4 linked regions of the Homo sapiens genome follow. The protein of the gene in region 4 purifies or fractionates together with the protein of the main gene of each other region. This does not show direct contact. Each region holds a gene or a part of one and is shown on either strand. Other genes may lie near its edges. The genes, in order: BAZ1B, SMARCA5, TWF1 and MYO1C.

Region 1 (7,040 bases), on a different chromosome or scaffold from region 4:
AAATATAAGTTGAGAACTGGGAATACTACTTCAAAGGCAGCTGTTACCTAACCACATATTTGTTCTCCTCTATGAAACCACTAATAGCCTAATAAAGAAATATGCCAATCTGCCAACCATACAGTACAATTGTTTAAAAACCATCCTCAAAGTGCTTCCACTTGCAGAAATTCCCGAAAGAGCAATTTCCCCCCAATATATAATATGTTTTAAGACTTCTTTTGTTAAAACAGTTTTAAATGCTGTTATGGGAAATTAAAAAATGAAGAATGTTTATTAAATACATACCACTTAAAATGTTTCCGGTTTCAGTTTTAAATTGTTACCATCAAAACTCTTCATATATATATTTCAATTTCATTCATTCAATAATATGAAAAAGCCTGCGTTGCCAGTCCTAAATTAACTTCCTACAGCCATTTTTTACATAGCTCAGTACCTGAAATATACTTAGAAATTGTCTCTTCTCTATGGCATGTTTCTTATACTCTGCTAGAACCAGACCTGAGAAAGTATCATCTGAAAGTGTGTGAGCATCCATCAACGGCTCAAAACATTAATGACATTGGAAAAGTATATGTCGGATTCTCACAAGTTGCTACTCCACTGCCGATTCGAATGTATTAAAAAGTAGGGTACTGGCCAGGCGCGGTGGCTCACGCCTGTTAATCCCAGTACTTTGGGAGGCCGAGATGGGCGGATCACCTGAGGTCAGGAGTTTGAGACCAGCCTGGCCAACATGGTAAAACCCCATCTCTACTAAAAACACAAAAAGTTAGCCGGGCGTGGTGGCACGCGCCTGTAATCCTAGCTACTCAGGAGGCTGAGGCAGGAGAATCACTTGAACCCTGGAGGCGGAGATGGCAGTGAGCCCAGATCGTGCCACTGCACTGCCACCTGGGTTAACAAGAGGGAAACTCCGTCTCAAAAAAAAAAAAAAAAAAAAGTGGGGTACTTCGGTATAATGCAGTATTTGGTAGAGCTAGTGGAACTTCTCCAGAACATTCCAAGTCTTCACAGGACAAGAAAAAAACCAGATCACCACCCCTCCACTTTAAAGTGCCTTACCTTATACCATAATGACAAAAAAGTGAGGTAATATTTAAATTAATTGAAAGTGAAGGAGTAACATTCCACCTTCTTCTGTTGATTGACTTACAGGGATGAGGTAGGAAGAGCGGTGGATTCTACTCCTCTTTCATCATTTGACCTTCAACAAGTCAACCTCCACTCTCTGGGCCAACTCAGCAAACCAAGCCCGAGGACCCGACCACCTCCAAGATCCACTTCAGCTCCAAGATGCTACAGCTCTATTTCTCCAAGAGCCTTCCTCCAGCATGGACTGATTTTCCAGGCCCCTTTGTGTGTATACTCCCCACAAAGGGACACTCACAAATTGCACTCCAACAAGAATGAGATTATCCTCTAAAGTACTGCGTTAAAGTGAGGATCAGGGAGAAATGAAATAACTCTGAGAGACACTTCCTCCTATACAGAAGCAAGCAAGAAACTGAGAAATGAAGTCCTTCCGAACAGAAGGGGCTGAGAAAACTCATAACACATTAGCCTTCACTCTTAAAGCTTTCAGTCACCAAAGAAATGCTTGATTCCGAAATCGTTTTTGTTTTTTTTACAGATAAGCCTCAAAAACGATTCTTCTGGCACCCATTAAAAAAAAGCAAATAAAAGCTGCACAACTTTTCACTAAAAGATAATGCTTATGCAAGAAATCTTAGTCATGACGAGAGGATGCTTCCTTTGTAAAACATCCAATTTCATGTTCCTAAAATACAACATAAAAACTTCACGTCTTGGTTTTTTTGTTTGTTTAATTTTAACAAATACCAATCTCCTTCTAAACCTTCAAAATTTCAAACCTGTGTCTGCCCAGGGAAGGCAGGCATCAGCTCCTCCACAGGCAGTTTCCTTCCCTCCCTTTCCTCTAAGCGGGGAATCTCATTCCTAGTTTTCTGCCCCAGGGTCCTGTCAGTTCATCCCCGGCCTAAAGTCCCCTCGGGAGACGAAAAAAACGCCAAGTATCCCCGCAGAGATCGGGGTAAGACGCAGTTGAGTCTTGCACACGCCGCATCACGAGGCCGCGCGAGTACAATTTCAAAACTTAAGCTGCAGGTTTCATTTAAATTTTTAAAAAATTTTTGTAAAAATTAAAGGAGAAAACCTAGCTCCCCCTCCCCACGCCTCCTCCTCCCTCTCGGGTCCTCAAGGCCTAAAGCCAACCCGGGGAAGGTAATGGGGATGGGGGATGCGCTCCTCGCCGGCGAGGCCCCGGGACAAAGTGCGGGGCCCCGGGGGCGGCCGAAGCGGGCCCTTCTCCTTCCAGGGCCGGTGCGCGCCCCCCGCCGGATCCCCTGGAAGGATCGGCGGGCGCAGGCTGAGACTCAGCCTCCAGGCCCGCGAGCGGCCGGGGCGCGCTGACAGCTGCCCCGGGCCGGGGATGCGCGGCTGACCTGGTCTCGCGAGCCCCAGGCCCTACCCCGGCCCAGCCCGGCCCAGCCCGGCCCGCGCGGCTGGAAAAGGATACTCCCGGGTGCGGAAGGCCTCCTGAGTGTGCGGGATGGTGAAGAGCGGCTCCTCTCCGGGCAACGGCTTCACCAGCGGGAAGGGCTTGCGGCCCAGGAGCGGCGCCATCGCGGCGGCGGCGGTGGGGACTGGCGGCTGCTGGGGCCGGCCCCGCGGCGCAGCACTAGGCCCCGCGGCCCGGAGCGAGCGCCAGGCGCCCGGGGGTGGGGTGGGGGAAGGGAGGGGTGAGAGGGCGGCGCGAACTCCGGCTCCCTCACCGCCGGCGCGGCCGCGCGACAGTCATGGAGCGGAACGCCACGGCGCAGAGCTCCCGCGCACACCGCCGCGCCTCCCAGCAGCCCCCCGCCGACCTCCGCTTCGGGTCCCGGCGGCCGGCAGTCACGACTCCTCCTCAGCAGCACCGGAGGAAATTATTGAAAAATGGCGGGAGATTCCCCTCCTCCCCCGGGCCCGGCCAACGCACACACTAACTTGCTCCCCCGTGGCGCCGGTGGCGAATGCTCCAATAGGCGGAGAGCTGGTCAGCGCTCACAGCCTATTGGCTCGGAGGAGCTGCCGCTCCGCGCCTGGGTCCCGCCCCCCTGCCCCTGTCGCGTAGTTGGGTTGCAGCGCACTAGAGGGCAGTCTGAAGAGGTGAAAGGTCACGTTATGTAAGCGCCCGTGATAGGCGTGCGGGCCTCCGACGGCAGAGTTAAAAGTGGGGGACAGCGGGGGATGGAGAGGACGAGAACTCAAAGAGGTCAAGCCGGAGAAGCCCCTCGCATATACAGATACTGCGCCATCTGTCACCGACGGCGACACCGACATCCGGGCACCACTGTCCGTGTGGTGCGCCGGAGGGGGAGGGTGAGCGCGCGGCCAGGGGCTTTGTCTTTCCTCTTGGGCGCCTCCCCCTTCTTAAAGGCGCCGTGCTCGGCCACGCCCGGGGATGCGCGGGTGGGGCTGGGCTGCAGGGAGGGGTTGGCGGGAAGTGGCCCCGGGAGCTTACCCTACCAAAGGTTCTGCGGAAGGACAACGTGGGGGCCAGCTTTGCTCACCCCAGAGTTAACTTCTGGGCGGGAGTGTGGTTGAGATCTGGGTAGAAGTATACTGCTTGTTTCTAGGGGCTGGCTGGAAAGTAGAATATAGAAGCTTCTTTGGAGAAATAGATTAAAAGACGTACTTAGTTTTTTGGTTTTTGGTTTTTGTTTTTTTTGAGACGGAGTCTCGCTCTGTCGCCCAGGCTGGAGGGCAATGGCGCGATATCGGCTCACCGCAACCTCCGCCTCCCGGGTTCAAGAGATTCTCCTGCCTCAGCCTCCCAAGTAGCTGGAATTACTGGCGTGCACCACCACGCCCGGCCAATTTTGTATTATTAGTAGAGACGGGGCTTCTCCATGTTGGTCAGGCTGGTCTCAAACTCCCGACTTCAGGTGATCCGACCGCCTAGGCCTCCCAAAATTATCATTATTTTTTTTTTTGAGACGGAGTTTCACTCTTGTTGCCCAGGCTGGAGTGCAGTGGTGCAGTCTCGGCTCACTGCAACCTCTCCCTCCCGGGTTCAAGCTATTCTCTTGCCTCGGCCTCCCGAGTAGCTGGGACTACAGGTGCGCGCCACCACACCCGGCTATTTTTTGTATTTTGTAGAGACGGGGTTTCACCATGTTGGTCAGGCTGGTCTCGGACTCCTGATCTCAGGTGATCCACCCGCCTCGGCCTCCCAAAGTGTTGGGATTACAGGCGTGAGCCACCACGCCCTGCCAGAGCTGTGACTCTGGCTTTTTTTTTTTTTCTCCCATGATACTCAGCACCTGGCTCGGAACATTGTAGGTGCTAGTGAATACTATTTGAATGAATTGGATCTACCTTTTATTTTTTATTTTTTTTGTAGAGACAGGGTCTTACTTTGTTGCCCAGACTGGTCTCGAACTCTTGGCCTCAAGCAATTGTCCCGCCTCTGCCTCCCAAAGTGCTGAGATTAGGCGTGACCCACTGTGCCCAGCCAGGATGTCTCTTTAATAGGTACGTCTGGGCCGGGCGCAGTGGCTCACCCCTGTAATCCCAGCACTTTGGGAGGCCGAGGCGGGCGGATCACGGGGTCAGGAGATGGAGACCATCCTGGCTAACACGGTGAAACCCCGTCTCTACTAAAAATACAAAAAATTAGCCAGGCGTGGTGGCGGGTGCCTGTAGTCCCAGCTACTGGGAAGCTGAGGCAGAATGGCGTGAACCCGGGAGGTGGAGCTTGGAGTGAGCGGAGATCGTGCCACTGCACTCCAGCCTGGGCGACAGAGCGAGACTCCGTCTCAGGGAGGCGGGGGGGGGGGGGAAATAGGTACGTTTGGTCGGGCACGATGGCTCACGCCTGTAATCCCAGCATTTTGGGAGGCTGAGGCGGGCGCCTCACCTGAGCTCGGGAGTTCGAAACCAGCCTGAGCACCATGGAGAAACCCTGTCTCTACTAAAAATACAAAATTAGCCGGGCGTGGTGGCGCATGCCTGTAATCCCAGCTATTCGAGAGGCTGAGGCAGGAGAATCGCTTGAATCCGAGAGGGGGTGGTTGCGGTGAGCCGAGTTTGTGCTATTGCGCTCCAGCCTGGGCAACAAGAGCAAAACTCCGTCTCAAAAATTATAATAATAATCACAGTTCTATACAAAGTGCAGAATAAGAAAATAGCATCAACTATTTTAATGCTATTAAATGGGGAGCATTTCAGTTGCTTCTCCAAGCAGACAACACCCACATCCAGAATTTGTTTGGCTTTCCAGTACAATCAAAAACACACTCATTAAGTTATCTCCCTATTAAACTGTCTCCCTTAGTTTAAAGAACTTCACTTTAAAGTTTCCCAGCCTGTACCTTCCCAGCTGTACCTTCCCAGCCTGTCCTTCAACGGGGCTAGACTGCGAGGTGTCTCTAAATGCAGTCTCCTAATGTCAGACCTCTATCTCCTTTTCTTCTCACCTCAAGGATCTCCTATCCCCACTAGGAGGTCTAGGTCAAAAGCTACCTCTGTGAAGTTTCCTCTGATCACCTAGCAGAAAAGATCTCGGTTCCTTTTCCTTGAGGCAGTAGACTTTTCTCCCAAGAACAGCAGGAGAAGCCTTGCCAGAGCACATAGCGTTTGAGTTAATTGAGAAAAGAAAAGAGTTCTCTAGACAGAGAAGGAGGGACGAACATTATAGACAGAACAGCAGAGTGAAGCCTGGAAGTTCAAGATCGTGTGCCCAAAATGTGAGGATTTGAGGCAGAATATATCAGATGAGAATGGTAAAGGAAGTGACCATCCTGATATATTCTGTAATGGCTGAATCGGAGTGACTACTTAGAAGGGAATTACAGGGCTAGGCATGGTGGCTCACACCTGTAATCTCAGCACTTTGGGAGGCTGAGGAGAGAGGATACTTTGCGGCCAAGAGTTTGAGACAAGTCTAGGCAACATGGCAAAACCCCGTCTCTGCTAAAAATACAAAAATCAGCCGGGCGTGGTGGCGCATACCTGTAATCCCAGCTACTTGGGAGGCTGAGGCAGGAGAATTGCTTGAACCCGGGAGGCAGAGGTTGCAGTGAGCTGAGATGGTGCCCAGTCTGGGCGATAAAGCGAAATTCCATCTCAAAAAAAAAAAAAAAAAAGCAAAAGAAAACAATTTGATATTTCAGAACAGCATCTCACTTTGCACATGTGAACTGGGCACCATAATCATTTCAGCGCTTGGGTCCGCTGTGGGCTAGAATCCATTGCTGGGATTGGTGAAGATGGGATCTGAGATGGGAAAATCGGTAATGGGCTTGGTTTCAGCCATGTGAACTCCAGGTACCCTGAAGAGCCATCCAGAACACAGCCGGAAATTCTGAGGGAGGAAGTGGGAGCTGGAGGTGGGGCTTGGTGGTCACAGTACAGAAACTTGAGCTTCAGGAACCATATAGAGCTTATGAAGAGACCCCAAATAAAGAACAGTGCTCATCTCGGGGAAATGGATTTATGGTTTTTGCGTTTTGTCTCATTTTGAGACAAGATCTTGCACTGTCGCCCAGGCTGGAGTGAGTGCAGTGGGGGATCACAGCTCACTGCAACCTCGACCTCCTGGACTCAAGATCCTCAGCCTCCAGAGTAGCTGGGACTACAGGCACACACCACCATGTCCTGCTAAGTATTTTCTTTTTTGTAGAGACGGTGACGGGGATGGGGTCTCACTGTGTTGCCCAGGCTGGCCTCAAGCCCCTGGCCTCAAGGTTTCCTCCCTCCTCAGCCTGTCAAAGTGCTGGGATTACAGGCATAAGCCACCGCACCAGGCCTGGAATTACAATTTTTTTTCTTTTCTTTTTTTTCACCCCTCCTTTTTCACTGGAATTACAATTGATGTGATTTTCTTCTTTATATTTTTCTATATTTTATGATTATGTTTTTATAATGACTACATTATTAGTTTGTTTTTGAGATAGGGTCTCACTCTGTTGCCCAGGCTGGAGTGCAGTTGCACAATCTCAACTCACTGCAACGTCCACCTCCCAGGCTCA
Region 2 (7,349 bases), on a different chromosome or scaffold from region 4:
AATGATGCACAAATCTATGCTAGGCAATATATGCTATAATAAAACTATCTGTGACCAAAAAGTTGTGGGGAGGAGATCTGGTACGGTACTGGAATAGAAGGTAAAATGACCTTAAGTCAAGTCTAACTTCATTGTTAAGACCCTTGGCACTTGTGTGACCCTATGTTCATCATAAATCTCTGGTCTACATATGTAAGTGACAAAGCCACCTACCCAGTCCAGTTTACAAAATTCCAAAATGCCATGAAATGCAACCTACAAAAATAAAATGTGCTTCAGGCATCTTGACATCACATTATTGGTATACAGGTGACTATTTAATCAATCTAGTCAATAGAGATGAGGATGAACACAGAAGAGTTCCACACTGCCAAAAGGATAACTAAAAAACAAGTGCTCCATTGACCTATTAGTATCAAGCAAAAAGAAAAAAAGTAACTGAATACATAGGAAGGCTATTTCTGGGAAAATCAGCTTTGTCACCAAAAAAAAAAAAAAAAAAAAATTCATGAATGCTGGGTTTACTCTGTTTAGAAAAACACCTTAGATCATACTTCCAAACAAGAAAAAGTCATTTATAAAATATTCATTTTCCAAGTGCAAAACAGATTAAGTTGTGACATATATATTAAGCATGTGTGCTCAAACTTAGTTTATATCATGAATTGCAGTAATTCTGAATTTTGTTAAACAGGAAACTGACATTTTAAAAGACAAAAAAAAAAATCACACTATAATGTCAACCAAAAAAAAAATGTGTCAGTGATAAGATGGATAAAAAAATAAAATTCCTAATATTTCTATACTAGGAAGGTAAAAATAACAATGTTATTCAATAAATTGAACCGCCAAATATGTTTTTTTTGGTAAGAACATGGCAGAGCAAGATGGGTGGGAAACGGCTCACTTTTAAAGGCAGATCCGAGTTTTATTACAGGTTCTACCTAGTAGAACTCAATTTCCCCATCTGGCAAATGAAAATATCACTAATTTAATACGGTAGTGATAACATCTATACTCACGTTTGAACTTAAAATCAATTTTCATTTAAAATAGCAACTTCAAGTCAAAAATGTTGACTTGCTTTAGGCTTAAAATTACTCTGCATTCAGATATTAATAAGACCTCTGGTGAAACATTCATTTTTCCAAAGTTTGGATGGCAGACCCCTTTGAGAAGCTGAGGAAAAACTATAAACAATTTTTGTAGAGAACTGCACATTTACACATAATTGCTTTGTGTCAAACCCCTTAAGCCTTGGAACAGAAATCCAAGTTAAAGAGCCCTAGTAACCCAAAAGAACCATTTCCTTAAGGAAAAAAAAGCAACACTGAATATATTTTAATTTGGAAGTAATCTTATCTTAATCACTCAAAACTACAGGAACTATCAGGAGTTCCTATGTCACTAAACCTACCCTCACCACTAAAAGTTCTTTAAATGATTACTAACATTAATGTTACTTAACCCCAGCTACCCAAATATAACTACTGTGCCAAAAGCCTCAATGGTAAATTACGCTACCATTTTCTTACTGTATAATGATTCTGCATCAAGACTCATCTTCGGAGCAGTATTACTTTCATTCTGTCTAAGGATAGGAAAATCCCAGAAATCTTTGGGCTCCGACTCACAAAATATCTCAAAACAGGTCGAAGGCCAAGAAAATAAAAATTGGAAGGAGCAATTACTTTGTTCCCAGATGCAAAGCCTGGAAGCATATCCAATTTACCCGCCTGGCAGCTTCCCCCATCTTTCCAGCCCCCTCAGTACTGTCAGCATCCCCTGCCCAACCCAAACCCATAAGTCTCGGCAGCGAGTGGTACTAATTTTTTTTTTTCTTAAGGCCAGAGGCCAAAAAGAGAAAAGTGCCGGACTGAGAGCCAACCAACTGCGCCTGGTTCTCTAATTCATTCCTACACTTATTCATCCCCCCTAAATTAGACGGGGGATCCGAGACAGCTGCTGCTGCCTTGGTTGCTTCCCTTCCAGTGGAATAGTGCCTGGGAGGGGCCTTCTCTCCCTTCACAGAAGCAGCTGCGCCCCGCTTATCCCCACTGCGCACTCGGCCATCCAGCTCTCGCCATTGTTTCTGCCCACAACAGATACCGCCCCTGCAAGGACCGGGAAGAAGAAAAGGAGGCCCAAGTCCTCGGACGCGCTGCTTTTAAATGCCTCCTTCACCCCGCCCGTGCATCCCGCTCCTAAGGGGTCATCTCCTCGCCCTTCCCCGAAGTTTGGTGGAAACTAAAAACCACATTCAGAGGTAGGAGAGGGAATTATGGGAGTCTAGTGGGAAAAAAACGATGGGTCCCCCGGGCCACGGTAACCAAGAACATCTGTTCACTGAGAGCGTTCAAATATTTGTCAGGATTCACGAAAGAGACAAATAATTTAAATGTGAGGAGCCAGAAATCCATTTTGCTTAGCTCGAATAGGGTAAGAACAAGGGAGCAAGAGTGAGAGCATCATTTCGTATCCACAGGGTGTGAAGCTGAGTCTGGTGCAGAGAGAGAAACCCGGCTCTGCGTCCGATCGCCACGATCCGGCGAGGGAGCCAGCTCCTCCTCCCCGCTGCACCCGCTCCCCATGCCGCAAGTCGCCCTCACCTCCATCTCGGCGTCTGCGGGACCAGCGCTGGCCGCAGACGCAACCGCCTGCGCCGCGACGCCTTCGGGGCCGCCTTTGTTGCTGCTGTTGCTCCCGCCGCTGGCGATCGAGGCTGCGGGCTTGGAAGGCGCGCTCTCGGGAGGCGGGGGTGGCGGAGGCTCGGCCGCGGACGACATGATGTTCCGTCTGCGTCACCCGCTGCTGCCAGAGGCCCGAGTCCGGCGGGGATGGACGGGGAGGCCTAGGCCTGGATGCTACGTCGCAATAAACTGGTGGAGGAGCGAGACTCCCACCCGAGCGCTCCCCTGCGCCGCGCCTCCGCGACGGGCCTGAGCCGGGCCCAGGAGCTGCACACTCCCAAACGTTCTGCTCTTCCGCGGGGCTCTAGGTTCCACCGGCGCTTACCTCACGGCGGGAATCACGTCGACGAGGGTGGGCGGGGCCAGACGGGTCACTGAGGTCAAGGAAGGCCGGCTGATTTAGAGAAGGGCGGAGGGTTGGGGGAAGGGAAAAGGAAAACGAAAGAGAGACTGAGGCTGGGAAAACGCTTCGCCGCCTCCTCCTCTTCCTCTGGAAGATAACATCTATCTCGCCAGCATCCAGGACGACGACCTACGCCACCGACTTTCAACACTCGCGAGATTCCTTATTGGCTCACTGACTGGGTCCTGAGCGCGCATGCGCATACTGCCCTCCTCACCCTTGGCCCGCCCTCTTCCAGATCTCTAGCCGGCTCGGGAGAGAAGAGTGGGCGGGACCTCCAGGGAGCGCTCGGAGGTGTAGGTTTGTGCGCCTGCTGCTTGGCAGGACGCGAGCTCAGTGTTTTAGGCTTTCGTAACGGCTCACGGTTCTCGCTGTGTCTTCTGTGCCTGACAGGGGTTGGCGGCACTACCGGAAAACTTGTCTGGGTTTTGCGCTGCCCATTCAAACTTGGAAGTCTTGTGTCTGGCCCCAAAACTTCTGCCGTATCCGCTTAGAGGCGTGACGCCACAGCCTTGACGACGTTATGGTTACCCCAAGTGAAGTCTCACGGTTTTTTGTTGTTAGAAAAAAAAAAAAAGTCCGTTAGTGTGATTTTTTTCTTTTTTCTTTTTTTTTTTTTTTGCCTTCTCATGTTAGCTGCGTCGGTTATTTCTAAATACCCTCCTTAGGCACAGAGTTAAATGATATTTCTTCTGAATTTATATGCCAAAGTTAAGCAAATAACGTGCACACTACCATGGAAGTGAGAAACACGAATAATCAATATATGGGGAAGATAGGTGGTGCGATGTAATCTTTTCCCCAAGCATCAAACATGAAAATTAAAACGTACATTCTCCTTAAGTGTTAACAAATATTCAGCACTGATTTTGTATACTGCCTTAGGCAGCCTTCAATGCAGCTTAAGGGCCTTGTGCATTCATCGCCTACAAAATTTAAATACATTGTAGTCTGTTTGATAACGAATCTGCATACTACAGTAGATTACCTGCCCAGTACAGGGTCTTTTTTATCTTTTTTTATTCCTCATATTCAGTATTCTCTAAATGTTTGTTGAGTAAAGGAGACACATTTTTCGAGAGTTGAGGTTTGAGCTAACTGGTTATGTTGAATTCCAAACAGAAGGGATCCCCTTTGAATATATAGCCTGCAAATTTTTTAACTAATGGAATGATAATTCTTAAATGGACATCTGGAAAAATGTCCCCACTCCACTAGAAATGCTAGTTCTTAGACTATAAGGAAATGTCTAAGGATATATGCAAAGATGAATACCTACAATGATGTTCATCATAGTCTTCATATATGACTGCAAAAAGCTAACAACAGTAGGCTGAATCCAGTATTAAAAGTTAGGTGTTTAAAACTGTCATACACCCAGAAAATGAACTATTAACCTTTAACAACCATTAATGTAGAATAATGGTTGTTTTGTGTTGTTTTGTTTTCAGACAGTTTCTGTCGCCCAGGCTGCAGTGCGGTGGCATGATCTCAGCTCACTGCAATCTCCAACTCCCAGGTTCAAAGGATTCTCATGACTTAGCCTCCGGAGTAGCTGGAATTACAGGCGTGCACCACCACGCCTGGCTAATTTTTGTATTTTCAGTAGAGACAGGGTTTTGCTGTTTTGGCCAGGCTAGTCTCAAACTCCTGGTCTCAAGTGATCTGCTCGCCTAGGCCTCCTAAAGTGCTGGGGTTACAGGCGTGAGCCACCGCACCTAGCCAAAGAATGTTAATTTATAAAGTGTTAACTGAAAAATTTGGTTTAACAGTTCAAAAATGTAGATAAAAGTTGGAAGCATATTTACAAAAGTATTGAAACTGATCGTTGCTGGTTTTTTGTTTTTGTTTGTTTGTTTGTTTGTTTTTTGACAGTGGCTTGCCCTGTCTCCTAGGCTGCAGTGCAGTGTCACAGTCGTGACTCACTGCAGCCTCAGCCTCCTGGGGTCCAGCAATTCTCCCACCTCAGCCTCCCAAGTAGCTGGGACTACAGGTGCATGCCACCAAGCCCAGCTAATTTTTGTATTTTTTGGGTGTAGACAGGGATCGCCATGTTGCCCATACTGGTCCTGAACAACAATTAGGGCTCAAGCCATCTACCTGCCTCAGTCTCTTAAAGTGATGGGATTACAGGTGACAGCCACTGTGCCAGGCTGCCGAATTTGCCTATTATTGTATTAAGAAAACTTTTTTTAAAAAAATTTCAGCTTTACTGAGGTATAATTCACAAAATTGTATATATTTAAGGCATACAATGTGATGTTTTGATATATAAACACGTTGTGAAATGATTACCGCAATCAAGCTAATAAGCATATACATCACCTCTTATATTTACTGCCTGCCAGCATGGTGAGAACATTTAAGATTTACTCTCAACAAATTTCAACTATGCAAACAGTATTATTAACAATAGTTACCATGCTGTGCATTACATCTCCAGAAATTATTCATCTTGTATAACCAAAACTTTGTATCCTTTGACCAACATCTCCCCATTTTTAGAAAGCTTATTTTTAATTTTAAAAAATGTTCTTTCACCGAAAAAAAATTATGTGGAAGGGTAAGAAAGTGGTGTCTAGGGTGGAACCTGACACATACTTAATAAATACTTGATGAATAATATTTTTATATTTACATTAAATAGACTAAAACATTAATTTAGCATTCGAAATGTTTCTTCACTTTTTATAGTCTTAGGTAGAAATCTTGGGTCTTGGTCTGGAAACCCTAAAGTTATATGTAGGTATATAAATGAAAGGATCTTAAGTCTGATAACTATTTAAGGAAAGCAATAAATAGCAAGGAAAACAATGCACATAAATAAATAAAAATTGCCTCCAAAATGGCGATTGTCTTTTAACATGTGCATTTACATGTGAGTTTCTCATATGATCATATGAAAGCTGTATTAGAATCATTCGGGGGAAAATTATAGAGAAAAGATGGAAACTAGCAAGAGGACACAGAATGCTCGAACTCAGTTATCTAGCATAAGTGACAGAGAAAAAGATTTTTGGCAGAGTTTAGAACCAGAAAGGAAAAGCAGAGAAGAGCTACAGAAAAGACATGAAGCCTAGAAACAGCTACAGGGACATTAGCTGTGTTCCTCAGGCAGATAGCAATACTAATATGGTGGCCAAATCACAAAATCCTGCTAAAAGGCTAAAACTAGCAGCTAGTTGTTGAATTGATCACATAATACAGAATTCATGTGTTGGTAAAAGAGTGGGTTGGGGAGCAGGCAAGCCTAGATTCCAGTGCAGGCTCTGGAACTTAGTAGCTGTGTGAATGCAGACAAGTTATCTAACCTCTTTGAAATCAATTTTCTCATCTTTTTATTATTATATTTTCCTAGCTTTATTTTGAGATAATATTATGATGTCATAAAAATTAAATGAGACAGTATAAGGTACATGATACAGTGCCTGACATATAGTGAGTTCTGGGTTCAAGTGTTAGTCTTATCCTTGAGAATCATAAGCCTAAGGTTTAGAGTCTAGTTGAAAGAAGAGGAACCAAAGAAGGAGGAGGGTAAGGGGTTTGGTAGCAAGAAAACACCAGAAAGGATTAGAGCTTTAGTCGTATTCCCAGCAACAGAATGCTACAGTGTAAAATAATGTTAGTGTTCTATCTCCAATATGTATATACATAGTTTACACCTAAAATTTCCTCTGTTAGATTTAATGTGCTAGAACAGCAAGTACAGTACAGAAATACAATGGAACAAAGAGATGTTGCCAGAGGACAAAAATGTGCCGAAGAGCCAGGGCTCTCTCAGCATTGTGTCCTTGAATGGTAACAGAAAGGAGTTAAAGTTTTCTCAAGGACAAAGAAGAAATGCAACACCTCTCTTCATTGCAACTCATTTTGTCAAAGCTTAAGAAAATAAAGTCTGATTACTGCAAGACAATAAAACTGTATTGAGTTTGTATCTAAGAATGGGTATTTCCAACACCAGATACCAATGATTACATGTTGTATGTATCTTTTTTAGAGTTCTCCCACATAGGTCATTTGTCAATGTACAGAGATTTCAGTTAAAGAGAAACATTAACTGTACTGTTAATAAACAGGTAAGGATATATTCCCTTCATTCCCCTCATATTTAGTCACCAACTAAATAGTGGGAGACTTTGTGTCTGCTCGGTATATATGCATATGTTTATGTAGTCAAAGTTTTTCAGGTTTTCTCTGCATTTCTTCCTGCTCATGAAAAAATAATTTCTTTTTTGTTGGGCTGGTTCTAGGTAAAG
Region 3 (7,607 bases), on a different chromosome or scaffold from region 4:
GGCACACCCCTAAATAAAGGTCACCATACTGACCTAGCCTATTCTGAAAAAACATAACAGATACATTGAAGCTTTATGATAAAGTATTTGTTATGGAGCAGCGCTTAGTGAAAGGGTTAATCTGTTTTGGATCCCAACCATGAGGCTATGATTTTCAGGCAGCTCCAAAGAGTAGTTTAGGCTGGAAGTGAAGGAGCTTTAACTCTCCCATAATCTCACTGAGCATCCCTGCCCTCTCGCCCTGCTTGTCAGTTTGCTATGAATGCCTTTCTTGAATTTATTTTAAAAAATACAGCAGATCTGAACAAAACAAACAAACCCTGCTATGCAAGCTCAGCTCACAGTTCCCCTTGCACCATCTTCCCACCAGATTGCAGATTCCAGCCCTAAATTTATCTAATATGGAAAGTCTGGAGTGGCCTGTGTTGCGATTACAGAAATACATAAAGGACAAGGAAGGTTGTCCCCGTTTGTGGACTCAGTATGAGATAATATCTCCTGTACATGCTATTTAAACGTTAGGGAAGGTTTTTGGGTGTTAATTAGCATCACTAGCAAAGACAGAGAAACAGAGAAAGAGAGCAAGCAGTATGTTCAAAGTGATTTGCAAATATTCCTATTAGGCATTTAAACCATCCTACCCCACATGACATGTTAGAGATAATGAGAAAGAGATTCAAGATGCTGTTGCTAAGGCACTTTTCCAACCCAGGGTGAAAATCTCACTATAAATAATACATCAAAAAGCTGGTTGCTTTGTGCTTTCCTGCACTTTGATTCCAATATGCATCCTTATCATTATCAACAATTCTTTTGAACCAAAGTGTTCCCTGTTTCTTTCATTGGAAAGTACGTATCATTTATTAATATTACTTCAGTCTATATTTTACTTGGGAAAATAATAAAGAAATATCATTTGCTTGAACTATTCCTTAACCCAGACTCTCTGTTCTGTTTTCTCAAGCACCACTGAGTCCGATAGGAATGAAAGAATTTTATCTTATATATTCCATTTCGTGAGGAGTTTTAGCAATCTTGTCAGGTGTTTATTGTGAATTGTTGAGGGTTATAATTACATGCATATAATAAAAGTTAATTTCAGTCAAGGTATGTTGCTTAATTCTTGATCCTCATTTTTTATAACCCAAAGGGTTACTTTTCTTATTTAATGCTTTATAAATCTAAGGACGTGTTACACAAAACACAGCAGTTCACAGGGCCCAGCGATATTGTGGTTTTATGAACCTATATAAGAAATCAACTTTGGATTGTTGCTTTTGAGGTTTGGAAATTCAATCTAACTCCATTTGCTCTGTTTTAAATGACCTTTTATTTTGAATCATACTGTATTGTAATGTATTGTGTTAGACTTAATTCTAACAAAATATGAAGCCTAACATACATTGAGCATTCATACATGTTAGAGCTTCATAAAGTCATATTTCACTTGATTTTCATGACAACCATGAGACATGGGTATGACATATAACAAGAGAGAAAATGGAGACTTAGGTTAAATAATGTTGTTCATGGTCATACAACTTCTATGTGTTTTTAAAAATTTTACAGCAGGGTTTCTTCTCTAGGAAAATCTAACGCAAATAGTGCAGCTCTTTATAATTACCTCACCAAGTAAAGAAGAAATGAATCTATCAAAAAGGTTTCAATTCAGAGAAGAAACAAGATGGATGGATGAATGATTTTTTTAGTTTCCTGTGTATATGCACTATACACAAACATGTATACTGCTCACATTAATGTGGCACGCATCATAGTCTCTTCTATGGTAAAAAGACTTTATGGACGCTGTGATTTTAAAATGTCATTATTTGGCAATTGACCACACAGATGATCTAGGTCAGAAGTCCTAAACTACCATTTCATAGGTCAAACCTGACTTGCAGTTATAGTTCTCTTTTTGTTTTGTTTTCCTACATAATTGAAATAGAGATTTTACATAAAATCCCAGTTTCCGACATCACTTGCAAAACATAAGATTGGTCACCTTGCGCTTGAATTCCCACAGAGCATCAGTCAGTCAGAATTGAATTGAGTAGTAGTAGCTCCTTTTTTTTTTTTTTTTTTTTTTTCTCCCCTTTGAGACAGGGTCTGTTGCCCAGGCTGGAGTGTAGTGGGGTGATCATGGCTCATTGCAGCCTCTACCTCCTGGACTCAAGTGATCCTCCCACATCAGCCTCCTGAGAGCTGGGACTACAGGTGTCAGCCATCCCACTTGGCCTAGTAGTAGCTCATTTTAGATGGATCCTGTGCTCCCTCTCATTGCCACAGTCTCCATTTATTAGCTTCATTCATTTATGTTATTTAACTGACCCCATAAGCATTTGTGTTTTGTGACCACCATCTTAGGTTCTAAACATTACCTCTACCAAACTGTAAAAAGTAGGAATTCTACACCTGTTTCCCACACCCAAGATCCATCTCCCCTCCTGTGATAATTGCCTTTCACTCATGGGCAGTGTATATTGGGTAAACCAGCCACCTTGGCCAAGAATGATTTGACACAAGCCAAGCAGGGTCATTCACGTGCTTTCTCTTAGGAACTTTAAACTTGGACTTAGAAGAGCTATGTAATCTCTGCATGCAGCTACAACCCTGTCAATTTGGAAAGTGTAGGGTAGCCATATTCAGCCATTTTGACTGCACAAGCAGAGAGATCTTATTTGGAGAAAAAGAAGAGAAAAGCAGAGGTGACAACCAAGTTGTCAAGATCTATAAGATCCTCCAATATCCTTATAATAAACCCTCTTATCTGCATACATTGTTTTCAAATGGTTTGTTTCTTACAGACACTTGTCTTAGCCTTGAAACCTGCTGACTTCCCAACTCTGTGGTTCAATTTCCAAACCTCTTAAAGTTAAAAAACAAAACCTGCTATTTTTTTCAGCTCGTCACACAGGATGTTGGTACTCAAAATAAGTCTATTATATATTATTTGTAAACTGTAAACTACCATACAAATCTAAGGTATTATTCTCATGACAGCTCTGGCAAATGTTCACTAAATGGAGACACAATAGATGAAGAAAAGTGGGAAAATATTTGTGGCTAGAGCAGAGCAAGGTACCCAAGACGCTTGCAGCTTTTAAGTCAAACTATTGTACTGGCAGTAAATAAGCACTTTCTGGTGGCTGTCAGGGTGGTCCCAACCTAACTAGACATTCCTCTTCTTCAGGACTGAGAATACAGTGGCCTTTCCCAAGCACGAATATGGAAGGATTATATTTTGCTCAACTATACTTTTGAGCAACGCCAACTTCCTTAAGCAATTTCCCCGAAGCACTAGGACATGAATCAGTCAAAATACTGCAAGTCAACTCTGCAATTTTCTCTCTGCTCAGCAATGTAGTCAAAAACTGGTAAATCAGGGTGAACCATTGTGTCAGGAAGAATTTGATTAGAATGAAACTCCTCCCTACATTTCTTAAATCCATACAAGTCATAAAACTCAGATTTAGTTTATTCCTGAATATGAGAATATGTCTGAAAAACAGAGCTCAGATAACAGGCAATAGAACATAACCTTGTTTGCTGTGATTCTTGTAAAGAAAAACAATTGCAGGCCTGTTCATCACTCATGAAAAATACATCGTATAGTACTGGAACAGTGATTAACTTGCACTTATATTATTGACCTGAATAAATTATTTCTTCATTAGCAGATTATAATTTTGTGTATGTGTCACTTCAAGGCCCTAAAAATAAGAACTAGCTTCCCACCTAGTAGCAGTAGAGAAGCAGTACCAAAAAAAAACCAAACCCCCCACAAAACTAACATTACCTTTCAGGAAGGAACTACATGTTTGTAAAAGCAGGAAAGGAAAAGATTTTTAAGTAATATCTGCTGCTACCTTACAAATCTGTCCAAGTGAATTTTGAATAATTACTGGATTAAATAATAAACTGCCAACCTAAAGCAGAGCAGGATTTGCAATGGTATAATCGACCACAGAGGGATACTCAAATCAGCTAATCTCTTAGTGGCTGTCTCTTTCCGGAGTGAAGAGAAAGATACACTGAGTCTCTAAATGTGTCCAGCTGAAAAGAAAAGTTAACAGTCTGAGATTAACTTAATTTAAAATCGTGGAAAAATTTGATGAGAGGCAGTCTATATTAATTCTTTCAAAACAATGGAGCAAGGAGAAGGCTTTTCTACACTAAACGGTATCGATTATAGGAAGAGTAAACCAAGAAAAATAATGTGCACATCTTTTTTAAGCTGGAAAATGCCTATTTGGTAAAATGATCACTTCCGTTTTTGAGCACCCCTTTGCTGAGGCAGCGAATGGCGGCGTCGGCGGGGTTGTCAGAGAGCAGACGTCGGAGCACTGAGCAGTCTAGATTCTGCGGCATGTCCCCCCCGGAAGAAGCGGGAGAGGCGGCGGCAAGAGCAGAAGCAGGACCCCAAGCAGAGAACTAGGATAGCGAGGCCGGGGGCTGGACCGCAGCCCGGCGGCCAGGAAGGGCGGCGGGGCGGCGGGGACGCTCGGGCACTCAGTCAACCTCACGGGGCGGGGCGGCCGCGGGTCGCGGGCGGATGACGCGCCGGGGCCGGCGGAGGAGCAGCCACTTCCTGGGGCCGCCGGCCGGGGCCGCTGGCTGCACTCAGCGCCGGAGCCGGGAGCTAGCGGCCGCCGCCATGTCCCACCAGACCGGCATCCAAGGTAACAGCGCCCGGCGCGACTCGCAGGGAAGGGGCTTCCGGGAGAGCCGGGAGAGCCGGGAGGGCTGCAGGACCGGCAGGGCTGGAGTCGGGCCGGGAGCTCCGGAAGTCGGTCTCGCGGGGCGAGCCGGGCCTCGGCGCCTCTCCGCGCTCCTGCTTCCCGGGCGCTGCCGGCCTGCGTCCTCCTCCAGCCCGGTCCCTGCTGCCGTCACGTTGCAGATTGATCCGAAATTCGGGGGAGCGAAGGAAATTGGCTTTCGAGGCGGCCTGGTTGAAGGGGGCGTGCCTTCCACCGTCCCCGACAGTCGCCCAACTTTCCCCCTTTTGGTCACGTAGGGAAGAGCTGGGACAGTGGAGGCGACTGGGGCTTCAGTACGCTGTCGAGAACCAGGCGAGTTTTCTTTTTCATGGTCCAAAGGAGAATATTACAGGACTTTGATTACAAAAAGAACCATGCCAGAATCTTTCTCACATCAGTAGGGGTGCTTCCCAAAACTCTCCCGCATTTTCTCTCCAAATAGGAAAATGAGAGTTATGTTCTGAGAAATCTCGAGTGTAAGCGTGTGTTTTGATCTTTTTCCTAGATACTCCCCAAGGGAAACTGATCTGTATGGTTGCATGTAATGCGTGCAGACAGTTCAATATGCAGTTATATCTGACCTCCATTATTTCCTGGTTTGAAATTGGGCAGCCTGCAGGTACTCACCTCATCAAGAGTCAAATAATATATCCCCGGGTTACTCGCGATCACTTAACGAGTTCTAGTGTAAACTCAAGCTCTTACTGTTAATAGCGAGTCTTTCTCCCAGATGAACACTTAATTGTATGTTTTATTCGTAAAGATTTTTGACACCACCGCACACATCCCCCTGCACGCACGCAGAAGCAAAATAGTCTCAAATCTGAAAACTTTGTTTTATTTATCCGCATTAATTTCGATATATAAATATGTAGTTATTGACTCTCATGCTTGAGCCTTATAGCAAGCACTACCTACTTACATAGTGGTTCTTGCTGCTAATAGACAACACAGGAACGAAATTAGAACGAAATTGAAGCTTTAATAGGAACACAAGGGTTAGTTATTAAATACATATTTATTCAATGAGTTTAATCTAGCTTTTGAGAAATGCAAGTTAGAAAAATATAACCAGAGTTAAGACTGAATGCATTTTATTGTCTTTTTCTTTAAACAAGTTAGGATATTTGATATATACTGTTGTTTTTAACGGGAAAATACAGAAAGTGAATTGATGAAGGAGTGTCTGTCATAAGCTTGAAACTGAATTAGAGAATGAAAGCAGGTTTTCAATATTTTTCAAAAGAGCAAGAAAAGTTTTTCAAAATTGTAATTTGCTCATTATTGGGTTTGAGTAACTTCAGTATATTCACCCCAGTGTTATTTCTGCACAGAATTATGTAGCTAAAACAGATTAGAATTATTAACATACTTTTAAAATGCTAATATTTATATTTCTTAATTGTATACAGTCTTCGTTATTTTATGCGGTAAAGTTTTATAATACTGATAATAAGGATGCTACATGCTCCAGATTTTTTCTTTGTATTCTAATTAACTTTTCCAATATAGATAGGAAAGTATTTATATGTAAGTATAAAAAGTTTACTTTCTTTATCTTTTTCCACAGCAAGTGAAGATGTTAAAGAGATCTTTGCCAGAGCCAGAAATGGAAAGTACAGACTTCTGAAAATATCTATTGAAAATGGTTAGTTAAATATTTTAAAATATTTTCTGTTCCTGGATTAGTGGCTGTTGTATTTTTAAACTTACTGTGTGTTGTCAGTGATTTGAACTATTAATTAATATGAAGCAAGTTCAAATCTTACGGTAACTTGGATTCCTCATATTTTGTGCAGGTCCCTATGGGCCCCTAATTTCATTCTGAATTATGTGACTATCAGGGAAACAGAAAGATGTTTTTTGATGTGACTTCTTCCTCTTTTACTTTTTGTGTCTCAGTTTCTGCACCACAGTCCATTTCTAATGTCAGTGCTTCCATCTCTGGAATGGAAATCACTAAACAGGTGATTATCAAAAAAAAAAAATAGTTACTTGTGAATTATTCAATTAAGTTTGTTTTTAAATATAAACAAAGGATATCAAACTCCCATTTTCTCCATTTGATTGCAACCTTTGCCACAGAAATGATCATTTCCCTTTCTTGTTTTGGGAAAGTTCTGAGAATATAACAAACTACAAATTGATTCTTTAAAAATAATTCTGTAAACAGGGAATCTGGTTGAGTGGGAGAATCTTTTAAATCAGGCAGATTTGAATTTGAACAATTATTGTTATAGGTACTCAGTCATAAATGAATATATTAAAATATTCCAGTGGCCTAATTTCTTAAATATCTGAAAATATTTTGCTTTGGAAAAGTAACTTGTTCTTTCACAAACTGGAAGTAAATCTAATTTGTTTTCTATTTTCTGCTTATATAAAAAATACCAGAATAGTTTGTAAAATATGCATTTGTTTACATACAACATTCAATAGGAATATATGTATATTGTAAAACAGCATATTTTAAAAATACTGAGCTAAAATTTTTAATGCCATCACTTCCTAAGTGACTAGTTAAGGAACTAAAATGGAAAAGTTAATCTAACTAGCATCTCTACGGAAGGAAAATGGCACTACTTCCTAAGTTATTATTTTCTGGTTTTACTTTTTTGTTTTGTGAAAATTTTTAAATAAGGAAAATTCCAAAGACTAAAATTGTATCATAAATACCTATATCTCCCCTTTATTAATAACTGCTAACATTTTATCTTATTTACTTCAAGCATTTTAGAAAATTCAGTGTTTTTCTGGTATAAGAGCATCCCCTTTAAACAATTTTGCTTCTGACCTCCTTACCCTGGGGCAACTACAATTGGGAGTTCTGATACTTGTGCAGTCTGT
Region 4 (7,192 bases):
TGTCAAACAAACAAAGAAACAAAGCAATAAACCCATAACATGTTAACATAAATTTGTATGGGGGAAAAAAAAAAGTAAACGGCCCAGGAGCGGTGGCTCATGCCTGTAATCCCAGCACTTTGGGAGGCCAAGGCAGGCAAGATCACTTGAGGTCAGGAGTTCCAGACCAGCCTGGCCCACATGGTGAAACCCTGTTTCAACTAAAAATACAAAAAATTAGCAGGGTGTGGTGGCACACGCTTGTAATCCCAGCTACTTGGGAGGCTGAGACAGGAGAACTGCTTGAATCCTGGAGGAAGAGGTTGCAGAGAGCTGAGATCATGCCACTGCACTCCAGACTGAGTGACAGAGACACTGTCTCAAAAAAAAAAAAAAAAAAAGAGGGCCTTTGACCCCTAACCTGTACTCCCTGTTTAATGTCCTTGTAGAGAGAAGGGTGGCACTGTTTGAGCTGGTCATCACAGCCTGGCATTAACAGGCCTGCTCTCCTGCCTCCACTCCTCACACCAAGTAGTCACGACCTGCTAAAACCTCACCTCCAGGCCGGGCGCGGTGGCTCAGGCCTGTAATCCCAGCACTTTGGTAGGCCTAGGCAGGTGGATCACAAGGTCAGGAGATTGAGACCATCCTGGCTAACACGGTGAAACCCCGTCTCTACTAAAAAAAAAAAAAAATTAGCTGGGCGCGGTGGCACACACCTGTAATCCCAGCTACTCAGGAGGCTGAGGCAGGAGAATAGCTTGAACCCGGCAGGTGGAGGTTGCAGTGAGCAGAGGTCGCACCACTGCATTCCATCCTGGGCAACAGAGCGAGACTCCATCTCAAAACAAAACAAAACAACAACAAAAACAAACAAAAACCTCACCTCCATCACTGCTCCTTACCTGGGCCAAGACAGCAGCCTAACTGGCCTCCTTGCCTTCCTCCTACCAATCCATTTCCTCTGGGGCAACACAAATCAAATCAACACCTCATGTTCATAGAGTGAAGGTTTAGGACACCCTCCATATGCCAGGCCCATGATTCACACTCACTGCTGCTTACCAGGACCCTGCCTATGAACTCCCGAGACCCCCCTGCTGTCCCCAGTTTACCCCACTGCTCCTGCATTCCGATGTGCCAGATGGCCCGCTCCAGTCCCCTCTCCCCCCACCCCTCCCCCCAGGAGGGGGCCTTCGCACCGTCGCCAGCCAGTCCAAGCTTCAGTGCCTGCACCTGCGGCTTCCCCAGCCCGGGGCACTCTCCCTGCCCACCTCACTGAGACTCGGCTCAGGTGTCACCTCCTCCAGAACCCCTTCCTGATTCTCCCAAACACGCAGCGCCTCCTTATCGCACCCCGCAGGAATCAGCTGTTTCCTTGTCAGTCCCTCCCAGGAGACGGCTCCCACTCCCTACACGCAGCGAGGCACACGGTGGGGCTCAGTCACCCCTTCCCGGACCCCTGGATGAATGAATGAATCTCAGAGCCAGGCGTGTGCGCGGGAGGCCGGAGCGTGAGGACTGAGGGCCGCGTGGCCATCCTCCTTCTCCGGCCACCCCGGAGCCCCCCGCCCGTCACACTCGGGGCGCGCTGGGCCCCAGGGGCGGAGAACGGGAAGGGGCGGGTTTAGGCGGCTTCTCCGGAACCCAGAGGCGGAGCAGGGCTGCGGGCGGGGCCCGAAGGGCGCGCAGGGTCCTGGGTCCTGCAGCCCAGGCCGCTCTTCCCCGCCTCCCGCTCCCCGCAGGTAAATCTAAGTCTCCACCAGGCTGCGCCGGCGCCTCCGGGTCGTGGGACCCCCCCCCCCCGCACGGGTCCACGCGGCCGTTCTTCGGCCCCAGCGATCCCCGGCCGTGACCCCTGCCTCGTGCACGGCGGCTCCCGGCCCGGCCGCCCGCTCCCCACACCCGCCCCCCGCGGCCGCCGTCCCCGCGCCCCGAGTACCCACCGGCGTGGCTCTTCCGGCGCGGGCGGGGCCGGGCTGGGCGGCGTGGCGGGCTTGGGGATCCGCGGCCCGGGCGCACTCTCCCCGCCCAGGGCCCGCCGGGGGCCGGGCCGCAGCCTGTCGTCATCCCGGGCAGGGCCGCGCACCCTCCGGCCCCGCCCCGCCCCGCCTCAGCCCCGGCCGCGTCCGCGAAGCCTCGGTGCGTGCGGCCCCCGCCTCGGCCCGTTCCCGGGGCCACAGCGAACACGCGCGCGCCCCTCCGGCCGAAGACCCGGCTCCCCGCCGCGCTGCTGGGGGCGTGGGGGCGCCCGACTTTCTCCCTCCTCCGGGCCCTTTGCATCTCCAGCCCCTTCCTGCGGGCCGGGCCAGGGCCGCGCTCCCCCGTTTCTACCCACCCGTGACCCTTCACCCACCTCCCACACCGTCCTTCTGTTCTGAGTCTTGGGCGGTCCCAGCCCTGCGGACTGGAGAGGAGCGGGGCGTTGACTGAGCCTGGAGCTTCCATGCCCTGGTCCTTCGACCTCACAGCAGCCGGCACTTGCCTTTTGTGCCCAGTATTCACGGTTCTGCCCACTGAGGTTCGGGAAGCCGGGGAAGAGTCAAGCCCAGACCTCCACTTCCAAAAATCCTGCTGCTAGTGGCCCTTGCATCCTTACTCTTCCACTCACCCCGTCTTGTTCAGTCTGTTCTGGCCCCGCCAAGGATCGGAACCCCTCCCCGCTGCTCAGCTCTTGCCCGAGGGCTCGCCTGAGAGGGGCTGCCCGGCCTTGGGGAGACGCTCCCACCCTCCTCCCAGCCCAGAGCATCCCAGCTTACAAGCTTGCAGGGCCTGTGGGGATGAACCACGCGGATGATCTCCCCGGTGGGTACCAGCTCCACTTGCAGCGCCATTCCGCCCTGCGGAGAGCCAGCGGCCTGGGCACCGCGGCCTGTGAGCAAGAGCTGCCTGCCCACTGGCGGGCTCCGACCACTCCGGGACCAGGAACCTACGGTCTAACGCCGGGATGGCCACTTGGTTCTGCTTCAACTGCAGCCCCAGGGGATGTGGCTGGTCCAGCTCCTCAGGACACGGCTGGAGCCGTCCAGGTCTGACTGGGAGGCCTCTTGGCCCGGATGGTTGGAGCAGGAAGAGGAGGGGCTGGGGATGGAGGAAATGCCTGTTGTCCCAGGTAACCAGAGGAGCCGATGCAGCCACCCATGGGGGACCCTGGGCTCCAGGTCAAAGGCTAGGACGCCTTTCCCCTTCCCCCCATCCCCACGGCAGCTCTATGGCTGGGCCCCTCCTCCTGCCCACTCTCTGGTACCACCTAGAGAGCACGGGGCCCACTCCCCAAACCAGACGGCATGCCCTCCCCTAGGCCAAGAGGACCCGTTAGTAGGCACTGGCTTTCCTGCACATCCCCTCAACGGGGCTGCCCCCCACAGCAGGTGAGCCCCCACCATGAGTTTGAGAGACCAGGGCTGCTGGGGCCTGGTCATGCAGGGCCCGGACAGGGGGCTGTCCCGCTGTGAGGAAGCTCTTGGCTTACCCTCCTCTGAGCCTCAGAGCTTGTGAGGTTAGTTCCTGGGTTCCCTGGGTGTGGGCAACCTCTAGCCCTGTTCATCCCTTGCGTTTCAACAGTACCCCCAGGTGACCCCCACCCCTGATGTTCCTGCTTTTCTATTTTTATTGTTGCTAAATCACAGCTGACACTTTCCTGGCCTGAGACTGAGCCCTCCAGTCTCCAGCCATTCCTTATAGGAAGTAAGAACAGGGAAGTGGATAGGGGAAACAGACCTTTCCAGAGGGAGAGGCTGGCATAGGAAGGGCTGAGTCCCGTGGGTGTGTGCTGGCACCGACAGCCCCATAGGCAGGGGCCTTCCCCCCGGCACCCTTCTCTCTCCCCACAGCTTCCCCCGCCCCGGAAAAGCTAGCAAGCCTTCCTTCCTTCCTCCGGGAAGCACATCTATCCAGAGCAGGCTCATCCCCGGCGGCCACACAATGGCCCTTATCAGCCGTGGAGCCAGGCGTAGACCCAGTGCACACCAGGTCTCACTTATTTCCTGTTTCCACCCAGTGGGTCGGGGTGGACCCAGAACGGCCATATCCTGACTGGGGCCCAGAGGACGGAGAGCACCCCCCATTCCCCTTTCCGCCTCTCAATCACTGCTGGGCTCACCCCTCCCACACAGGAGGCTGGGTGTGTGGCGACCTCAGTTCACCACGGGGGAGGTGAGCATGTGGGGGGACCCCTGGGGTCAAGCCCCGGGGCCGCATTAATCAGAACGGGGAGGCGGGTCTAGTGCGATACACTTTCTGCAATTGTTCTCCCACAGTAATCTTGAGAATAGGGACATCATCTGTATTTTACAGACTACTGAGACCGCTCTGCGGGTGGGTTCAGACCCCATTCCTGTTTCTGGTCCTGTGGGAAACCACAGGTGCCTGGAACTTTGAAGAGACTGTACCACTTCTCTGAGCCTTGGCTTTCCCATCTGCCCAATGAAGGGTGCCATGCAGTAACCCTCGTGATGGCTGTGCATGTGAGAAGGAACAGGTGGGCAAGTGAGGGCTTTGGAGGTCCCTAGGTATATGTGTTGGGGGCAGGGATAGGTTACCATGGGGGAAAACTCAGCAAGAAGGGGCTGAGGAGAAGTGGGGCAGAAAGAGAAGATGGTGGCATTCTGGACTGGTTAACGCAGGCAGAAGGCTCAACACCAGGGTATGCAGAGCAGCGGGTCAGGAGGGATGAACAAGAGCTCATTTGACTTAACAGAGTACATTAAGCGGCCACCGGCATAGATGGCATGCTCCACCTGGTTAGGGCCCCAGAGGCTCACCATTCTAGAACCTCATCCTAGCCCCAGTCCTGGCCACTTCTGCAAATCTCAGACACAGAAGTCTAGTTGGGATCTACAGGGTCCCTGTTCCTGGAATCTACAGCTAGTCCCAGGCCCATCACCGTACCCCCACCCCCCAATCATCAGTCACACGCAAGTGTAAAAGCCACGCTAATAATTACCCCTGCACAATGTAACAGTCACAAAACAGCCAGCCATGGCCTGCTGGAAGCCAGGGGACAATTCTTCATACACAGGCTTGCGGGGGAGAGTATGCAACACAGAGCAACTGGAGTAACCCTCAGTCCCAGGACACAGGATGGCAGGACAAGCACTGAGCAGGCTCCCAGAGGTGTCTTCTCCTGGGAAAAGGGCTGCCGAGTGACCATGGCGGAGGCAAGTGCTGGATGTGGGGACAGGCCATGTCCCCAAAGCCCCTAGAGGGTGTTCTCTGAAGAACCCCAGGGCCAGATCCTCCAAAATGTCTTGAGCTGGTTCTCCCTTCTGCCTGCCCCCACTCTGAGGTCCCGGGGGGTCCAGGGGGGGCCCGTCGTCAATGGCTCCTGACAAGGGTGGCACAGACGCACCTCACCTGCCAAGGACCACCCTGGAAAAGTCTGTGGCCACAGCTCCTTGACCACTTGTCACCCCTTCCTCAGATGGCAGGGTGGAGGCATGGGACTCAAGCTACCAACGGAAGCGAACCTGGATCCTTCCCAGTTCTCTCTGTCAGGATCTGGAACTTCCATGCAGTCAGACTCCATGCCGTGAGTAGGGAGGAAGGTTGTGCTGGCCGAAGGACCCTCATCAACCTGCTCATAACCATGGCGTAAGAGCCTGGCTAGAGGGGCCCCTCCATTCTGCCCACTGAGTCAGACTGCTTTTGCTGAAAGCAGAAATCCCAGACCCTCTGCTCACTCCTCACGGGGACAAGCTATGAGATGCCAAGACTCCTGGAATCCAGCACTGCTTGCACCAGTCTATGTAGCCTGTACAAATGTGAGCATCTCCCCTCCCAGACAGCCTGAGGCCCAGGACGGCACGACAAGAATGCAGGCCTGTGCCAAATGGGGCATGTGCCTGGCAGGACTACTTGGGCAAGACTAGAAGAGGGGGTAGGAATCCAGAAATGAGACGCAGAACTGTCCCCAGGTCTTCACTGTTGACACACTAGCTGGTTTCACTCACATCTCAGCAACAAAAACCTGTATTTAAGCGGCTAATTCCAGAGATGAGTAGTGGAGAGAGCAAATGAGCCTGGTTAGAGCTCACTCTGGGAGGAGTATGTGGACGACACTTGGCTGTCTCTTCAGGGGGCCAGGCTGGGCCCCCAGCACTCCCGGCAGTGGAAAGGCAGAGCTGGCTGCCAGCTCTGGCCTCCGCCTGGGATTCACTCCCATCCTGGCTCAGATCTGTGGCTGTGCTTCACCCAGTGGGTCCTCCCTCAAGGAGCCAGGCGGGATCTGCAGGGATAAAGCAGGTGGTGGAAATGGAGAGCGGGTCTTCCTCCGTGCTTTCCATCACCCCCGTTCCTGCACTGCAGCGGCCCCTCATGTACCGGCTGGCTCCCAGGCCTGGGCCTCAGGGAGCCAGTGATGAGCTCAAGCCCTCACCCTTCCCCTTCCCTCACCAGCACTGCTTACCTGGAAGGGTCTGCTTATCCCCACCACAGAACGCAGACTGTTGCTGTAGTAACAGAGGAGAAACTCATCTTCAGTGGTAGGGATATTGCTGATGTCGATGTAAACCTGGAGGGGGATGGACAGGACTGGGGTCAGCTCCAGGGCTCTGGGCTCCACCCAGCTCTGAGTGACAAGTTATTCAGCACTCTGTTCCTTCCACAAGACAGGAGTGCTGAGGCAGGCCTGCCTGCTGGTGATGTACCTGGTGCTGGTGACGTACCTGGTTCAGGTTGTCGCTGCAGGAGACCTTGCTGTCCCCGACCCAGGCATAGGACACGTAGTCATTAACGTCCCGCAGCCCCACCTGTGAGGGGGAGTCAGGCCATCAGTGGTCAGGGAGGACATGGGACCTAAGGCAAGTCCTAAGGAAGAGATGGTCTCCCTGCTGGGCCTGGCTACCGTACTGTGTGCCTCCCCGCCGCCCTTCACTGCCAGCCTTTAGCTACAGAAGAACCGCTGGGGTGGATGAGGGTGAGTTCGTCAGCATCTGCCCAGCTCCCAGGAGCCCTCGGGAAGGATGAACCAGGGGCTGTCGCTGATGGACTTCCTGCCTTGCCACCACATCACCTTGTACAGTCCAATCCAGTCCCACGGGCTGCTGGGGAAGTCCGAGGTTGAAGAGTAGCTGACCATCATGTCATTTTCCACGGTCCACAGGTCCTCGGGCATCAGGACGATCAGCGGAGCAGACACCAATGGCTTCAGCTAGACACGGGGGTGGGAAGGGGGCTGAATCTCGCAGCATCATTCCCTCCTCTGAGGCCAAGT

What was found.
Region 1: the proteins of MYO1C (region 4) and BAZ1B purify together in Homo sapiens (affinity purification with western blotting; 3 studies listed by BioGRID, with this or other methods). This does not show direct contact.
Region 2: the proteins of MYO1C (region 4) and SMARCA5 purify together in Homo sapiens (affinity purification with western blotting; 3 studies listed by BioGRID, with this or other methods). This does not show direct contact.
Region 3: the proteins of MYO1C (region 4) and TWF1 purify together in Homo sapiens (affinity purification with mass spectrometry; 2 studies listed by BioGRID and IntAct, with this or other methods). This does not show direct contact.

What each region holds. Positions count from the first base shown.
Region 1 is NC_000007.14:73,519,285-73,526,324, forward strand, and holds the start of BAZ1B (tyrosine-protein kinase BAZ1B), read right to left. Parts: upstream 3,010-7,040; 5' UTR 2,650-3,009; coding exon 2,543-2,649; intron 1-2,542. UniProt on the Homo sapiens protein: Atypical tyrosine-protein kinase that plays a central role in chromatin remodeling and acts as a transcription regulator. Involved in DNA damage response by phosphorylating 'Tyr-142' of histone H2AX (H2AXY142ph).
Region 2 is NC_000004.12:143,509,362-143,516,710, reverse strand, and holds the start of SMARCA5 (SWI/SNF-related matrix-associated actin-dependent regulator of chromatin subfamily A member 5), read right to left. Parts: upstream 3,010-7,349; 5' UTR 2,787-3,009; coding exon 2,610-2,786; exon of another isoform or gene 2,486-2,609; intron 2,267-2,485; exon of another isoform or gene 1,874-2,266; intron 1-1,873. UniProt on the Homo sapiens protein: ATPase that possesses intrinsic ATP-dependent nucleosome-remodeling activity.
Region 3 is NC_000012.12:43,803,296-43,810,902, reverse strand, and holds the start of TWF1 (twinfilin-1), read left to right. Parts: upstream 1-4,585; 5' UTR 4,586-4,657; coding exon 4,658-4,682; exon of another isoform or gene 4,683-5,072; intron 5,073-6,330; coding exon 6,331-6,408; intron 6,409-6,662; exon of another isoform or gene 6,663-6,727; intron 6,728-7,607. UniProt on the Homo sapiens protein: Actin-binding protein involved in motile and morphological processes. Inhibits actin polymerization, likely by sequestering G-actin. By capping the barbed ends of filaments, it also regulates motility.
Region 4 is NC_000017.11:1,489,675-1,496,866, forward strand, and holds the start of MYO1C (unconventional myosin-Ic), read right to left. Parts: upstream 3,013-7,192; 5' UTR 2,814-3,012; coding exon 2,739-2,813; intron 2,006-2,738; exon of another isoform or gene 1,926-2,005; intron 1,272-1,925; exon of another isoform or gene 1,254-1,271; intron 1-1,253. Other genes in the region: INPP5K (inositol polyphosphate 5-phosphatase K), read right to left, coding at 6,149-6,205, 6,386-6,490, 6,645-6,728, 6,992-7,129.